2 separate regions of the Homo sapiens genome follow, and region 1 is linked to region 2. Evidence: fine-mapped QTL for protein levels in blood plasma. A gene starts in region 2. The other region holds a variant in brackets. All regions are shown on one strand. Distances are between the middles of the regions. Region 1 overlaps RNASET2 (ribonuclease T2). Region 2 holds the start of RNASET2 (ribonuclease T2).

Region 1 (8,264 bases), 30 kb after region 2:
TGCATGTGGGCATGTGCTATGTGTGCATGTGTGTGTACATGCATGTGGGCATGTGCTATGTGTGCATGTGTGTGCATGTCCTGTGTGTGCATGTGTGTACATTATGTGGGCATGTGCTGTGTGTGCATGTACATGCATGTGTGCATGTGCTGTATGCGCATGAGTATACATGTGCGCATGTGCTGTGTGTGCAAGTGTGTACATTATGTGGGCATGTGCTGTGTGTGCATGTACATGCATGTGTGCATGTGCTGTGTGTGTGCATGTGTGTGCATGTTCTCTGTGTGAACATGCATGTGGGCATGTGTGTGCATGTGTGAATGTGTGCATGCATGTGAACGTGCTGTGTGGGCATGTGCGTGTGTGTGTGTGTGTACATGCATGTGGGTATGTGCTGTGTGTGTGCATGGGCCTGTGCCTCTGTGTGAATGTGCATATGAACATGTTCATGTACTGTGTGTATGTGTGCACATATGGGCATGTTCTGCATGTGTGCACAGGCCTGCACATCTGTGTATGTGAGCATGCATGTGTGTCTGTGTGAGCATGTGCTGTGTGTGAGCAAGCATGGTTTCTTGACAGCATGCTAGGACAGGGTTTGTCTTCTTGCTTATCTTTAACAAGAATATACCTGTTCTTTTAGCAATAGGGTACTGTTGCCCTTTTGGCCTACAAAAGCCATTTCTTCTCCTAATATCTTGATAGATATGTTGAGTGCTGTTGTATCTGTGTGTAACTTTGTTAATTTTCTCTAACATAAAAGCAGAGGCTTTTCACCAGGGCACCAGGCTGGCCTCTGGTGGTGACCAGGGGATCCAACCCCCAAGCCCAGCTCCACTGCCCACAGGCGAGTCACCTGGGGCCACTCCTTCCAATTTAGTGCACAGCAGCCTTCTGCTCAATGAAGGGGTCCGTTCTTGGAACCTAGAACCTGTGGTGTGGAGCCTCTGCTTTTGTTATCTTCTAAAAGTTCTAAAAGTTCATGATCTTAAGACCTTGATGATAATCCAAGATCTGAATTCTAAAGCGTCTTTCATTGTTTACTTTTAGGATGAGGAAGTACAGACAATTGGTCAGATAGAACTGTGCCTCACTAAGCAAGACCAGCAGCTGCAAAACTGCACC[G/A]AGCCGGGGGAGCAGCCGTCCCCCAAGCAGGAAGTCTGGCTGGCAAATGGGGCCGCCGAGAGCCGGGGTCTGAGAGTCTGTGAAGATGGCCCAGTCTTCTATCCCCCACCTAAAAAGACCAAGCATTGATGCCCAAGTTTTGGAAATATTCTGTTTTAAAAAGCAAGAGAAATTCACAAACTGCAGCTTTCTAAAAAACAACTCCAAAGTGAAGTCTGTTTATTTTGCTGTTTCCCCTCCATGCCTGTGAATTGGATGTTGTGGTCCCTGTAGAGTGAGTGCATGTGGCGTACACGGGGAGAAAGGAGCTCTCCCACGCCTGAGTGGCTGTTTTGTGCTTGGGATAAAGCTCACAGATTGTTTTTTTTTTTCTCTATTAAACTCTTCAGTGCCCTGGTAGATCAGGCAGGCATACTTGGAATTTAGACAGATGGCACCGATTCAGGGGACTCTCTTGCTCGAGTTTTCCCCTCGGAGCCTGTTGCCTTCTTGGCGCAGGGACCCTGTCAAGACGAAGAGCTCCACGCATGGCAGGAGCCCACGCTGATGCCTGGTGGGCCTGGGGGGTGTCTCTAGCTCAGACTGGGTCTGTTCCATGTGACCAGAGCCCCAGGACATCGTTCCTTAGCCAGCTGCTCCGTTGTTGGAGGCCTGGTGTGGTCACAGGTGTGTCCTAGAACGGTGACTTTGCCCCTCCTGCCCTAGGAGATTTGGGTGTATTCACAGAGCAGCCATCTCCTGTCTCCGTCAGAGCAGTCTCTTCCAGGTTACTGGAAGGTCAGTTTCTGTCAGGCCTCACTTCCTTCTTATCAGAGGGTAGCCAGGTCCCTGCACTGGTATCTATTTAGAAATGTACATGGAGCCCCCAGCGAAATGTGCCTACATTGTGTGTTCCAGAACCGGAGGTACCCTTACCTTCTAGATATGTGATGACATGGCTCTCACGTCAGGCAGACTGCTGCACCCACGCTCTCGGCCTGCCGTGCAGGGATTTCACTCGTGGAGTGAGGCATCTGGGGGCTGTGCAGTGAGGAGCTTTCCATGTGTTGTTAAGACAACCTGTTAGCATTGTCTTCTCCCGCGTCTCCTGGCCTCTTCTCTCTTTAAATCCTTTTCTCTGTTTGTCTTAATCACATTAACGTCCTATTTATGTTTTATTCAATATACATTTAAAATAGAACTTACTATGTGCCAGGCATTGTGTTCAACACGTGAAATATTTAATCCTTAGAATAACCATATTGTCAGCATAATTTACAAAAAAAAAAAAAACAGCTGTATCAATGCCTGTGAATATTCGGCTTTACTCGCCCATTTAAAGAAGAGATTTTCAAATTGGCTCAAACCAAAACCTCACTTCATGGTGTCTACAAGACAGTCTGAAATGCAGAATGTTCAGAGAGAGACAAAGGTTTACCAGGCAGATGGGACGGTGAGAAAGTAGGTGTCGCAGTCCTGATCCTAGACTCAGTGGCCTCTGCGTCCCCCGCAGGCATTAAAGGAGACACAGGACGGCCTCTGGCCCTCTGGAAACAAGCTCTGCAGTAAGAGCCTGAGACAGGCAGCACCCAGCCAGGCCTGACAGCTTCTGCAGACAGACAGAGTGAGATGATGGGGGATTTGATGGAAGCAGTCCCTGTATTTTGTCTCTTCTGTAATGGAGGAGCTGAGCCCTCTTCTGCAAGCTGTGGGGAAGGCTAGCGGAGCCCAAGGGTCCAGGGTCCCCACCTTGTCATTGTCCCTCGGCCCTTCTCTGAGCTCATTTCTGTCTCCAGTGTTTTTCTGTTGGCTTGGCAGGGCAGGATTTGTTTCTGTCGGGAACTGATGATTTGTGTTTTGATGCCTGTGAGAGGGACAAGATCTGATTTGTTTTGCACCTGGAAGGGCGTGATTTCCTGCATTTGCTCTGCGTCCTCAGGGAGTGGGTGTACTTTAGAGTTGGACTCTTAAGCCTCAGAGTCCTTTAAATGATGTCAATTCTTTTTTTTTTTTTTTTTTTTTTTGAGTCATTTTGCGAACACAGGGATCAAGGCTTGGGTTTTATCTTCATTATTCCCAGAGGAGCTGGTGAATTTGAACAGACTTCCTATTCAAATTGCATTTATTTTATAGCCTTGGGGGGTCAAGGAAAGCAGCTCTTCAGAGGCTGTCTGCAGTCGGCTGGCCTTTGCGGTTTTTAAAGAAGCCATTCTTTTTTTTAAGTAGCGTGTATTTATTATATGAGTGTGAGCATTTGAGAGCGGATGGGGACGCCAACAAGGTAGCATCCTGGTGGGAGGCATGGGCTGCGGAGTGCTGGTTTCCTGCCATTGTCACGTCAGCTAAATGGAAGAAGGCACTGGTGAGGGGCTGGATGGTTCAAAACATGAGCACAAGCAAATGCTTGGCTCTCTTAATATTCCTATTTTGGCCTAGAGCTCAGGAGCAGGTAGAACATGAGCGTTTGATAACCTGCCTCAGATCATGTAAGTATAAGGCACTTATGAGCCGCAGGAGACAGAAGGGGAAGACTCTGCGTTTAAGGTTCAGTGATGGAGATCAGATCCAAGCACATGTTTTTACATCATTAAACAAGTAGGTCGTGCATTTTCCAGATTCAACTCAGGAAGATGCAACTCTGACCACACGGTTCTCGCTGTAACTGGGCGGAGGTGACTGAGAAATGCCTCCCATGTGAGCGGGGTCTCAGGCTCGTATGTGTGGAAGGAGGAGCAGGCCAGGCTCTGGGATCAGAGCTGGGGGTACAAGTGTCTCCCAGGGGGACAAAGGAGCAGGCGCATCTCAGGATGGAGAGCAGCCAGGAGGGGCAGCTGGCCCGGGTCTCAGCCAGAGCAGGCGTCTGCCTGGAGCATCTCTGCGGCACCATGGAAAAGAGGACCCGTGGACTAGGCCACAGGGATGAGTGGAACTTATGGTGGAAAAAGACACCATAGGTAAAAGCGAGACAAGAAAACCAGGTTCCCATGAAACTCCTTCAGACCAGCCCCTTCTCAGCAGGGCTATTGCTGTACCCAAGAGCATTTCTCTTGGCCTGGGAGGGGACAATGCTTTGTCACCTGGAAAGCAATCCCTCTCTCCAAGCTAGTAGTGGGAGATCATTATGCGCTTGAATAACTAACAGTAGCAATTGTATCATATTCAGAACTAGATATCTTTTCTTTTCTTTTCTTTTTTTTTTTTTTTGAGACTGAGTCTCACTCTGTCGCCCAGGCTGGAGTGCAGTGGTGCGATCTCGGCTCACTGCAACCTCTGTCTCCTGGGTTCAAGCAATTCTTCTGCCTCAGCCTCCCGAGTAGCTGGGACTAGGCACGCCACCATGCCCGGCTATTTTTTGTATTTTTAGTAGAGTTGGGGTTTCACTGTGTTGGCCAGGCTGGTCTGGAACTCCTGACCTCAGGTGATCTGCCTGCCTCAGCCTCCCAGAGTGCTAGGATTATAGGTGTGAGCCACCGCGCCTGGCCCAGGTATCTTATCTTTCCACCGAAACTTTTGCCTCCATCTCGGTGAATGACATCACCATCCGCTTATTCCAGGTAGAAACCTCAAAGTGAACTGGAAACTTTTTAAAAAAATTTTGCCTAAATTGTGAAAGTATTCTGAATTATATTCAGCTTATCCTTCTCATTACTGACTTAGTTCAAGCCTCAGTCTCCCATCTGGGCCATGCATTGACTGCCACGCCACCTGACTGTCAGTGCTGGACGCTGGCACCGTGTTTGTGCCACTCTCCGTAACCAACCATGGCTCTCTGCTCCCAGATCACACCTCCCCAGTATGGCGGCTCAGGGACATTCCCTCAATCCCTCCTGCCCTGTTGGCAGTGCCTCCACCCACTCCCCACAGCCCATGAGGGCTCTGCTTAGCACTTCCTTGTGCCTGGATTCTCCGCGCAGTTTGGGTGGCCTGGAGTGCTCTTCTGCTCACCTAGTTTAGCAAGTTCCATGGGATATCAACACCCAGTTCCATGGTTGGCCGTTAAGAGTTCTTTTGCAGTCCTGGGTGGCTCTGCGCCTCCACGCCCAGGGACCAGGGCCTCTTCTCTTCCAGCTCTTGTTGTGTTACATAGAAGATGCCAGCTGGATGGCACAGGGGAGGGCCGTACAGTGTAGATGCGGACAATGTGGCATAGGTGAGGACTGGACAGCAGAGACAGTGGCTGCATGATGGAGGTGAGGGCTGGACGGGGGAGGCAAGGGCTGGACCGGGGAGGTGAGGGCTGGACAGGGGAGGTGAGGGCTGGGCAGTATAGATGAGGCCTGGGTGGCAGAGGTGAGGGCTGTGCAGTGTAGGTGAGGACGGGCTGGACAGGGGAGGTGAGGGCTAGGCAGTGTAGATGAGGCCTGGGTGGCAGGAATGATGCCTGGATGGAGGAAGTGAGAGCTGGGTGGCTTGAGTGAGGGCTAGATGGCATGGGTGAGGGCTAAGTGGCATAGATGAGGCCTGGGCAGCGGAGACATGGACTGCGCATCGTAGGTGTCGGCTGGACAGCAAGGGTGATGCCTGGACAGCAGAGGTGAGGGCTGGGCGGCAGGAGTGAGGGCTGGGCGGCAGGAGTGAGGGCTGGATGGCGTAGATGAGGCCTGGGCAGCAGAGGTGAGGGCTGTGCTGTTCCGGTTTTGGGCTAGACGGCAGGGAGAATGCCTAGATGACTGGGTAGAGGCCTGGGTGGGAGAAGTGAGGTCTGGACACTGTGGGTGAGGGCTGGATGGCGTAGATGAGGCCTGCGCGGTGGAGGTGAGGCCTGTACTTCTCCTGCCACTAAATCAAGAGCTGTTTATTGATTCATTCCACACTTTTTTCAACCCTTCCTATGAGCCGCCTCTCTTCTAGGCACTGGGACATGGCCATAAGCAGGGATCTTTTCCTCTTGGGCCCACTCCAAGAGTGGTGGCATATGCCACCATGCCCGGCTAATTTTGTATTTTTAGTAGAGATGGGTTTTCTCCATGTTGGTCACGCTGGTCTCAAACTCCCGACCTCGGGTGATCCACCTGCCTCAGCCTCCCAAAGTGCAGGGCAACAGACGGCAAGGGAAAAGAGGAGCATAGCTGGTGCATTTGATGCTGGTAGGTTGGAGGGAGGGAGGAGGTCAGAGTTATGAAGGCGGCCAGGGAAGGCTTCCTCGGAACCTGAAGAAAGGGAGACAGCAACTGCAGGGAAGGATCTGTGGGCCCTAATGGCCACGTCACACTACAAAGGCCCGGACTTTGTCCAACTCGCTTCTGTGCTCCATGAGTGCACCTGTGTCTGAGGCACATCAGCTCTAAGCCAGTGTTCTCTAGTGATGGAGTGAATAAATGAATAAAATAGAAAAGAGAGGCCGGGCGTGGTGGCTCATGCCTGTAATACCAGCACTTTGGGAGGCCAAGGCAGGCGGATCCCAAGGTCAGGAGTTCGAGACCAGCCTGGACAGTATGGTGAAACTCCATCTCTACTAAAAATACAAAAATTGGCCGGGCATGGTGGCGGGCACCTGTAGTCCCAGCTACTCGGGAGGCTGAGGCAGGAGAATGAATCACTTGAAGCCAGGAGGCAGAGGTTGCAGTGAGCCGAAATCACACCATTGCACTCCAGTCTGGATGACAGAGCAAGACTCCGTTTCAAAAAAAGAAAAAAAGAGAATGCAGCACTGGTCCCAGTGGAAGGTGCCTGCTGTTGGCTTCTCACCACGCCCAGATGAGGAAACATGCAGATCGCCTGTTTTCACTTTTTGTTTCTGCGAACTTTGGATCAGGAATAAAAATAATTTAATGCAGGTCCTAAGGCAGCTGAGAATTGTAATGTAAAATATTTTCAGAATTCAACTATATTGGCTAGATCTATCACTGCAGAAGGCTGGAAAAGACTCAGAAGTTAAAATACTACTTTTCCTCACAAGCTCTAGCTCCTGAAATGAAATTACCAGGATACAATCACAGATATGAAGTCAGTATTTGGGCGTCTATAGAAAAGAAGTCCATTGCATTGCTTATGGGATGAGCTACGTTTCCCATAGAAGGGGCAGTAGTGAGGGTTTTCTTATCTGAAGCAAAATCTCTGACAGATGATGAGAAATGCAGTTTTATGTCATTTTTTTTCTGATAAGAATTCTATTTTTTTTTTCTGAGTGACTGTAATGGGCCTTCCATTTATTTTAGACAAAAAAGACAGAATTAGCATTTTAGGCTCAGATGATAGTTATTAGAAAGTTTGAGATGGGCCAGGCGCAGTGGCTTATACCTGTAATCCTAGCACCTTGGGAGGCCGAGGTGGGCGGATCACTTGAGGTCAAGCGTTCAAGACCACCCTGGCCAACAGGACGAAACCCTATCTCTACTAAAAATACATTAGCTGGGTGTGGTGGCGGGTGTCTGCAATCCCAGCTACTCAGGAGGCTGAGGTGAGAGGATGGCTTGAACCCAGGAGGTGGAGGCTGCAGTGAGCCGAGACTGTACTCAAGCTTGGGCAACAGAGTAAGACTCTGTCTCAAAAAAAAAAAAAAAAAAAAAGGCCGGGCCTGGTGGCTCACGCCTGTAATCCCAGCCCTCTGGGAGGCTGGAGGTTGCAGTGAGTGGAGATTGCGCCACTGCGCTCCACCCTCCAGCCTGGGCAACAGAGTGAGACTCCATCTCCAAAAGAAAGTTTGAGATGGATAAAGTTAAGATCCATTAAATGCTGTATGGACTTTATGCTGACGTGCTTTTCACATTTCAGACCTGTGCATTCTTATGCATTTACATTCCCTTTATTTGAGGGAGCAAGAATTACACAATCACCTTTTCCTACCCGCTTTTAACACTGAGAAAAGTCTGCAGAGTGACAGTGGCCCATTTTTACCAGCAAAGACATTGAACCTGGCGTGTACAGCTTTGGTGGTTGGTACCTGTCACCATCTGCTCTTCTGTCTTGATGACCATATGTCTTGGACTGCACCCTGAGATGTGGGCTGCTCGTGCTGCCCCAGTACTGAACACAGCTACTTGAGCATAGTAGGTGTTTTGAAAATATTTAACCTGAATTGAGAAAAGATAGTCAGCAGTGGCCCAAAGATAACAACATACATCAAAAGTCATGTACAAGATTCAGCCAGTCACCAAGATGCTCCCAATATTCAGGGGCTTGGTACCTCACTAATCAAAACTGAAATGTCACCCGATTGG
Region 2 (8,306 bases):
AACACATGACTGGTCTTTTCTGTTTCTCTCCTGTCCTCCTTTTGTCATGGCCACAGCTCAGAATAAAAGAGTTCCACAAAATGTGTACCACAGTGGCCAGGCTGGCATGGCAAGGCCAGAGGTGCTGGGACACCCTGACCAACATGGTCAAACTCCGTCTCTACTAAAAACACAAAAATTAGCCGGACGTGGTGGCACACGCCTGTAATCCCAGCTACTCGGGAGGCTAGGGCAGGAGAATTGTTTGAGCCTGGGAGACGGAGGTTGCTGTGAGCCGAGATTGTGCCACTGACTGCACTCCAGCCTGGCTGACAGAGTGAGACTCTGTCTCAAAAAAAAAAAAAGAAAAAGAAAAAGAAGAGAAAGGGCAGGGAAACACCCAGCAGCTGGCCTCACTTTCTCAGCAAATAAGTAATTCAGGATGGAAAGGAGTTTTTAAGGTGAGATTCTTTCAAGTGTGACAAAGCTCTTTAGAGCATGAGAATCCTAAACTGTGTAGTTGTGCCACTGCTCTGCCATTGGAATGGCCAGCACCAGATATGGGCTGTTCCTACCGCCTGGGTTCCAGAGTGAAAAATACCGTGGACCACAGTGGCATCTGACGCATAGCCAGCATGGAATATGGGCAAATGAATGATAAATGATCAACTTCCGTTTAAGTGAGACACTGAGATTTGGGGGCGGTGTATTATTGTAGCATAACCCAGCAAAAGCTGGCATGGAAACAGGAAACCTGGAGCTAATGCCAAGAAGAGGTTGTGTGGTGAAAGTATCTTGGTCTCTTCAGAATTAACAAGGATTTAAGGATGTCTGTTCATAGACATGGCTGTTGCCATCCTGTCCCCCTCCCCTCTCCTAAGGACATGTTTCTATACAAGCCAGCAGCATCTTTTAAACCTCATAGTTTGTACCCTTTTACACTATGTTGTGTGAGTCAATGTAATTCCCACTCTGGCCCCTGCCCACCTGCTTGATGCTGGAGCCCTCTTTGTTTTCGTAAAGCTGGGCGGCTTCCAGACCCAAATCCAGCCTTTACAGCCACTGCCTCTTCCCTACGTAGGGTTCCGTTTAGGATCCTGGTAGGTGGACAAGTAGTGAACAAGACAGATGACAGATGCTCCAGGTTCACATCCAAGTTTTGGGGGGTTGAGAGCTTTTCCATTTGGATGTCCTTCTTTAAGAACAAGAAGGTAAAATTGTGAATACGGAATGAGATATGGGGTCTTGGTGGGGCCCATGCCAGCAAGGGGCCTGAAGCTCCTCATTAGCTTCCGATGTGGGGGTGGGGGAGTAGAAGTGGGCAGTACAGGAGGAAGTGACAAGAATTCTCAGGGGTGGGGAGAACTGTGTCGAAAATAAACAAGGAAGTGCAACAGGAAATGACTGGGTGGCTTCTTCAGGCTGGGTAGGACGCTGCTGAATTTATCTGATAAAAATCTCCTCTCTGTGAGTTGTGGAAAGTGGCTTGCTGCGAGAGACCCCCTTCTTCCCCACATAACATAGGTAAGAGTGATAGAAGTGATGCAGCTGGGCGCTGTCTCCAAAAAAAAAAAAAAAAAAAGGAAAAGTGACGGATGCTCCCCTCACTCCACCCCCTACCCATTACCTAGGACAAAGCCAGACACAGATCCTCCAATTCCCATTCTTCACCTCATCAATGATGAGCCAGTCAATAGAAATAACACACTTGTTAAGCAAACTTGGTGAGGCTCCTCTCTTCCCCCGAGGCTGAGGACTTTTGGCCTCATCTTAGCCTGAGTCAGTCCCCCCTGAGAACAGGCTGGCCACGGGGTCAACCTTCTCTGATCTAATGTCCTATGAAGGCAGGTTCTCATCCCACTTCTCCATTCCCAGTTCATTCTTTCTCTCTCTTTCTTTTTCTCTCTTTCTTCTTTCTTTCATTCATTCTTTTTGTTGTTGTTGTTGACCGAGTCTCACTCTGTCGCCCAGGCTGGAGTGCAGTGGCGCGATCTCGGCTCACTGCAACCTCTGCCTCCTGGGTTCAAGCGATTCTCCTGCCTCAGCCTCCAGAGTAGCTGGGATTGAGGGAAGAGAGAGACCCTCTCATATTGTTTTATATTGTTTTATACTCAGTACCTGTTTTAAGAAAAAAACAAGGAAGTGAAATCAAAGACAGGCAGCCCGGCGCCAGGCCCAAAACCGGACCTGGGCCTGCCTGGCCTAAACCTAGTAGTTAAAAATCAACTCATGACTTAGAGACCGATGTTATTCATAGATTCCAGACATTGTATAGAAGAACATTGTGAAACTCCCTGCCCTGTTCTGTTTCTCTCTGACCACCAGTGCATGCAGCCCGTCACGTACCCCTTGCTTGCTCAAATCAATCACGACCCTTTCATGTGAAATCTTTAATGTTGTGAGCCCTTAAAAGGGACAGAAATTGTGCATTCGGGGAGCTCGGATTTTAAGGCAGTAGCTTGCCGATGCTCCCAGCTGAATAAAGCCCTTCCTTCTATAGCTCGGTGTCTGAGAGGTTTTGTCTGCCGCTCCTCCTGCCACAGGATTACAGTCGCGTGCCACCCCCGCCCAGCAAATTTTTGTATTTTTAGTAGGGACAAAAGGCCCCCAGGCCCCTGCAATAATGGTCCTCATAACACCACTCCTCCCCGAGTCCAGATTTGCTTTATATTTGGCAGTGGTCACAACAGCCCTCCTTGACAAGGGGCTGTTTAAACACACCGGACTGTGATTTAAAGGAAAATGAGGATTCTGGGAAGCACTTTTGTTTTAAGAAAATTATTTTTTTAGCTTAAAAGAAAAGAGAAAAAGAACTGTGGCGTGTGCCTATATTCTTGAGAGGAAGGAATGAAAGGAGCCGGAAAGAAACAAATAAGTCGTTAGGGAAAAGGAGAACGAGAATAACACCATGACCTGTAGGAGGTCCTGGAGGAGCTAAGGAGGTGTCAGCCATTTTCCCCCCCCATCTGTTCCACAGGTGGCATTTTATTGAGCACCGACTGTCCCCCATCCACTGTGCTCAGTGGCAGGGACTCAAGGTGGGCAAAATAGACATGGGCCTTGCCTTGCAGTCTAGTGGGAAAAACAGATTAATCATTTAAATATTTTGTTTCAAAGAATGGTAATGCATGCAGGCAAGGTCCAGGCCTGTGGGAGAGCAGGCTACAGGCCCACCTGCTATTTAGACAGTTACCAGTGGCAGAGGACCCCGAGGAAGGCGCAGTTTACTCGACGTGTAAATAGGAATAGCCTTAACTAGCTGTGGGTGTGCGGACAGGGAAGGGAAAGAGGAGAAACATCTGCAGAGACAATGCCGGGTGCACAGCCCGTGGGCGGGGCCGCGGGTGCAGGGGAACCCGTGCCTCTGAAGGGCTGGGAAGGCCAGGGTGTTGGGGGAGGAGACCGGGCCTATGGGACTGGCCCTGGCTACGCCAAGGTGGGGCTGACATGAAGTCCCCTTCATCCGTGGGGGGTGGCCCGTCCCTCTGGGAGGGGATCCCTCACAAGATGACTTCCCAGGTCGCGCCCCGAGGCGGCTCTTTGCTGCCCCCACAGAGATGACTTCCGGGCTCCTGGGGCCCGCGGGGAGGGGCAGGTGAGGCCCAGGGCTGGGTGAGGGCCAGGCCCTTCTAGGAATGTTGGTGCTCCCAGCACCTAGCACCGGGAGACTGGAGAGGTTTCCAGGAGAGTGACCCGAGTAGGTCCCCTCCTAATTCTGGAGCCGTCCCTCGGGCTGCGCAGTGGAGCGCCGAGGTGGCGGGAGGCTGCGGGGAGCCTGGGCGGCCAAGCACCATCTGCAGTCAGGAGCTCCCGGGCAGCTTGCAGGGCGCAGTTTTTGAAAGCGGGTGCTGCGTGCGGACCGCGGGCCTGCAGGGTGCGCGGGTCGGGCTGGGGGCTGTCCCTGGAGAGTAGAGTGGCCCTGGGGCCCGCACGCCCACTTGCTGGCGGGGGATGGCGCAGACACGGGCGGTCCCCCCGAGGGCGGTCCTCACGGGTGGTCTAGGTTAGCTCGGACCCGGGAGTGTGGGAGTGGCGCAGAGCTGCGGGAAAAGGCGCGGGGCGCCTGCGTGGCGAAGGAACACAGCCGCCTGACACGCCCTCAAGGCCCGCGGAGCTGCTCCTGCCTCGGCCTCTCTGAGCCAACCACGGGGCGGGGCGTGAACGCCGGGCGGGGACGTGCCGTTCTGGGGGGCGTGTCCACCGGCGGGGGCGTGCCGTCCTGGGGGCGTGGCTCTCTGCTCCGGTGCAGGCCCGCAGGGCGCCCTGGGCTGGGAGCAACGCGACTGACCGTGGTCGTGGGCGGACGGCGGCTGCAGCGTGGAGGAGCTGGGGTCGCTGTGGGTCGCGAAGCAGAGCCCGGGACGTGCGCGCTTGGTGCACGATCCTGAAGGGGAGCTCCGAGGGGCCCGGGTCGCCAGGGCTGCTGCGGCCATTCCCGGAGCCCGGCGCGGGGCCCGCGAGATACTGGTTTAGGCCGTCCCAGGGCTCCGGGCGCACCCGGTGGCCGCTGCTGCAGCGGAGGGAGCGCGGCGGCGCGGGGGCTCGGAGACAGCGTTTCTCCCGGAAGTCTTCCTCGGGCAGCAGGTGGGAAGTGGGAGCCGGAGCGGCAGCTGGCAGCGTTCTCTCCGCAGGTCGGCACCATGCGCCCTGCAGCCCTGCGCGGGGCCCTGCTGGGCTGCCTCTGCCTGGCGTTGCTTTGCCTGGGCGGTGCGGACAAGCGCCTGCGGTGAGTTACCTTGCGAGGTAAAGTGGGGAGCGTGGGAGCCGGGCCCTAGAGCTTTCCACTGGGTGAAGGCTGCAGCTCTCGGGGTCGGCGGTCGCTGAGCCCCGGGCAGCGACTGGGGAGGGCGGGGGGAGCCGAGCACGCTCCGGGGTGACCCCTGGGAAGAAGTTGGGAAGTTGAGCACGCCTCGGGGTGACCCCTGGAGGGAGTGGGTTGGGGGGAGCCCTTAGCACACTCAGAAGTGACCTCTGGGAAGGAGTGCGATGAGGGGAGTCCTGAGCACGCCCCGGGGTGACCTCTGGGAAGGAGTGGGTTGGGGGGAGCCCTGGGCACGCTCTGGGGTGACTCCTGGGAAGAAGTGGGTTGGGGAGCCCTGAACACTCCCCGGGGTGACCCCTGGGAAGGAGTAGGGGGTAGGGTGAGGTCCTGGGTACACTCCAGCCTGGAGCTGGACTGGAAACTCATCCCACAGACTGCTCCCAGCCTAGGACGCGACAAAGCAGGTGGCAGGCTTGGTGGAGCACTGTTCCTGCACTCGAAGTTCTCTCAGAGGTCGAAGAAGTCGTGGAGGGGACACTTAATTTCAGCTTTCACTGCGGCGGGTGGTGAAACGACGGTTCTTCCTCTTTTTGAGTATCCTGTTCTGAATCCCTTCCCTTGGCTCGCCCTCCGCGTGTGTGTGTGTGTGCGCGTGTGTGTGTGCGCGTGTGTGTGTGTGCGTGTGCGTTTGTGTGTGCGTGTGTGTGTGCGTGCGTGTGCGTGTGCGTGCGTGCGTGTGTGTGCGTGTGTGTCGTGTGTGCGCGTCTGTGCGTGTGTGTCGTGTGTGCGCGTGTGTGTGTGTGCGTGTGTGCGTGTGTGTGCGTGCGTGCGTGTGTGCGCGTGTGTGCGTGCGTGTGTGCGTGCGTGTGTGCGTGTGTGTGTGTGGCAGCCGCCCAAATTAATTAGGGGTAAACAGGCGGTGCTGCAAAGAACTCCAACTTTAATTCTGTGGAAGATACCAATATTTGAATACCATATTATTTCTTTCTATTTGGGTAATGATCGGGTTAATAGGATTTCTTACTTACATAGTAGGTGTGGAAAAGGTGGGTTTTACTTATTTATTTTTTTTTAGACAGTCTTACTCTGTCACTCAGGCTGGAGTACAGTGGCGTGACCTCAGCTCACTGCAACCTCCACCTCCCGGGTTCAAGCGATTCTCCTGCCTCAGCCTCTGAGTAGGTGGGATTACAGATGCACACCACCACGCCTGGCTAATTTTTGTATTTTTAATAGCCAGGCTGGTCTCGAACTTCTGACCTCAGGTGATCCGCCCGCCTCGGCCTCCCAAAGTGCTGGGATTACAGGCGTGAGCCACTGCACCCGGCCAGGGTTTTACTTTTTAAACACCTTAGGTATATATTTTTAATCATGTACATTAAAATGTAGCATTATATTTCAGTGTTCCGGAAAGTGTATTTTCTGAAAAAGAGCTACATTTATGTCCTTATTTATTGGCCATGAGGTTCAGAGCCTCTCACTGGGGAAGTCTGTGGCATGCTGGCCCTTGCTGGCTGAGTGGAAACTGCTAGTTCACACCCAGGTGTGGGACCTTTGAGCTCTCTATGCCCCAGTTTCCTCATCTGTAAAGTAGAAATAGTAACAGTCAGCCTCACAGAGTTGGCTTCAGGAGAAATCAGTTAAGGTACAGAATGTAACTTGGAATGATGTCTGGCTGGAAGTAAACATTAGCATAAAACAGGCTGTCATATGTGGATCCCCCACCCCAGCCCATAATTCATGCAACTGATATGATCGGACAAACTTGAGCAGGCAAGATTTGCGAGAACATGGTTGATTCAGACCACGAGGGCTTCATAGGTCAGCGGGCATTTTCCCAAGTTCTAACTGGTTTTGAGACCTTGGTGATTTTTCTTTCTTCTTTGACTTTCTTTAGCTTCTCCATTACTTTCTCCGTGAATAGGGGAGGGGGGCATCTGTGTGGGAGGGGGTCTCCTGCAGTCACATCACTCTGCCTGGTTTTAGATGGAGAGTTTGTTACAAACGTCTGAGTCTTGGTAGTTTTGTTGTAAGCATATTGATAGTCTCATCTTCCTGGGTGTTGCTAAGCTTTCCAGCCTCAGGTTCCGACTATGTAAAATAAGGTTTTTCACCCAAGGGTAAAAAATGCTTTACCAGCTCCAATTCTCACCCTGCAGCTCATCCTTTTTTTTTTTTTTTGAGACAGGGTCTGGCTGTGTAGCCCAGGTTGGAGTGCAGTGATGTGATCTGGGCTCACTGCATCTTCCACCTCCTGGGCTTAAGCTATCCTCTTGCCTCAGCGCCTTCCAAGTAGCTGGGACTACAGGTTCATGCCACCACACCTGGCTAATTTTTGTAGAGACAGGGTTTCACCATGTTGCCCAGGCTGGTCTTGAACTCCTGAGCTCAAGCAATCCTCCTGCCTCTGCCTCCCAAAGTGCTGGGATTATAGGTGTGAGCCACCACGCTTGAACCCTTTTTTCCTTTTATACTGAGAGCTTGCATAATTAGTTCCAATGTACAACTAAGTTTTCATACCATCTTAACTGTAAATTCTATACAAATTCAACAGGACTCAATTATTTACAAAAGCTAATGTGTGACAACTTGATCTTCTTACTTGGAATCTTCCCTTCTAAAATTTGATTTATCCTGAAGTGTCTGCTTGACTTATATCCTGTGTTGCTGCTGGCTTTTTCCATGTGCATTTTTTGCAAGCTGCTCTTTTTACTTCAGTCTCGTTAAGTCTTGCAGTTCTGGCTAGAGGCCTACTGCCATGAATAAGCTGCCGCTCCACAGTGGCTTCTTTGAAGTCTTAGAGTCAGATGAGTTTCACGGTGTTCAGGTTTGTGATCCAGTGTGGCCCCAGGTTCTGGGTAACACGTGTGATGCAGTGCTGTGTGCATACCATGTCGTGAATAACATTCATGATGCAGTGCACATACCGTGTTCAAGTTAACAGTCCTGGTGGCATCTGAAGTAGCACCCTAAAATCAAATGACACAAATTCTGCAGAGAAGCAAGTGAAGTCTAAAAACTGAGTTGGGGTAGTAACGATAAATAGCGTTATGCTAGTTCAGGTTATGTTTTGTTGCCAAATGAATTACAAAAAACTACCAGGTTTCAGGCTTTTATGGGTTTCACGAATGCAGGGGAGGGATCGTGGGTCTGCATTTCTCTTGAGCATCCTTAGGAGAAAGGTGCTTCGTGGCTCAGTGGCTTCCCTTCAGTGAGGCCCTCCCTGGCTGCACTCCTAGCTTGCCCTGCCTCCGCTTCCCCTCCTCTCCCCTCCTCCCCTTATCCTATTCATGTTCTCCGCCACTCAGCACTGGACGCCACCACACGTGCCTTCTTAGTGTAGGGGTGTACCGCCTTCCTCACGGGAGTGTGTGCAGCAGCAGGGCAGGCAGTGTTCCTCCTCCCACAGCACTCAGTGCTGAATGAATGATTGAAGGGATGGATGGGTGGATGAATTTTTTCTGTAACTTTAAAAAAAGTTCTTGAAAAATAAGTTTCTTATGTTTTAACAGTGACAACCATGAGTGGAAAAAACTAATTATGGTTCAGCACTGGCCTGAGACAG

Evidence for each region. PIP is the posterior inclusion probability: the model's chance that the variant is causal. The UK Biobank Pharma Proteomics Project read protein levels with antibody pairs (Olink). The fine-mapping took linkage between variants from a reference panel, not from the people measured, so its PIPs are less certain.
Region 1: its variant is fine-mapped to the plasma level of the RNASET2 protein (UK Biobank, PIP above 0.99). The variant lies in the coding sequence of RNASET2. If it changes the protein, the assay may bind it differently, which can mimic a change of level.

What each region holds. Positions count from the first base shown.
Region 1 is chr6:166,922,578-166,930,841 of GRCh38, reverse strand. It overlaps RNASET2 (ribonuclease T2), which reads left to right. Exons shown (of 9, transcript NM_003730.6): 9 at 1,051-8,264. The coding sequence ends at 1,254. Among named protein-coding and RNA genes, the nearest start is that of RPS6KA2-AS1, 23 kb to the right of the region's middle. The variant G/A (reference allele first, on the strand shown) is at 1,126.
Region 2 is chr6:166,952,496-166,960,801 of GRCh38, reverse strand. RNASET2 (ribonuclease T2) reads left to right here and starts at 4,252. Exons shown (of 9, transcript NM_003730.6): 1 at 4,252-4,705; 2 at 8,254-8,306. The coding sequence starts at 4,620. RefSeq lists a cis regulatory region at 1,216-1,502, an enhancer at 2,183-2,302 and silencers at 3,267-3,316, 3,587-3,686, 3,727-4,486.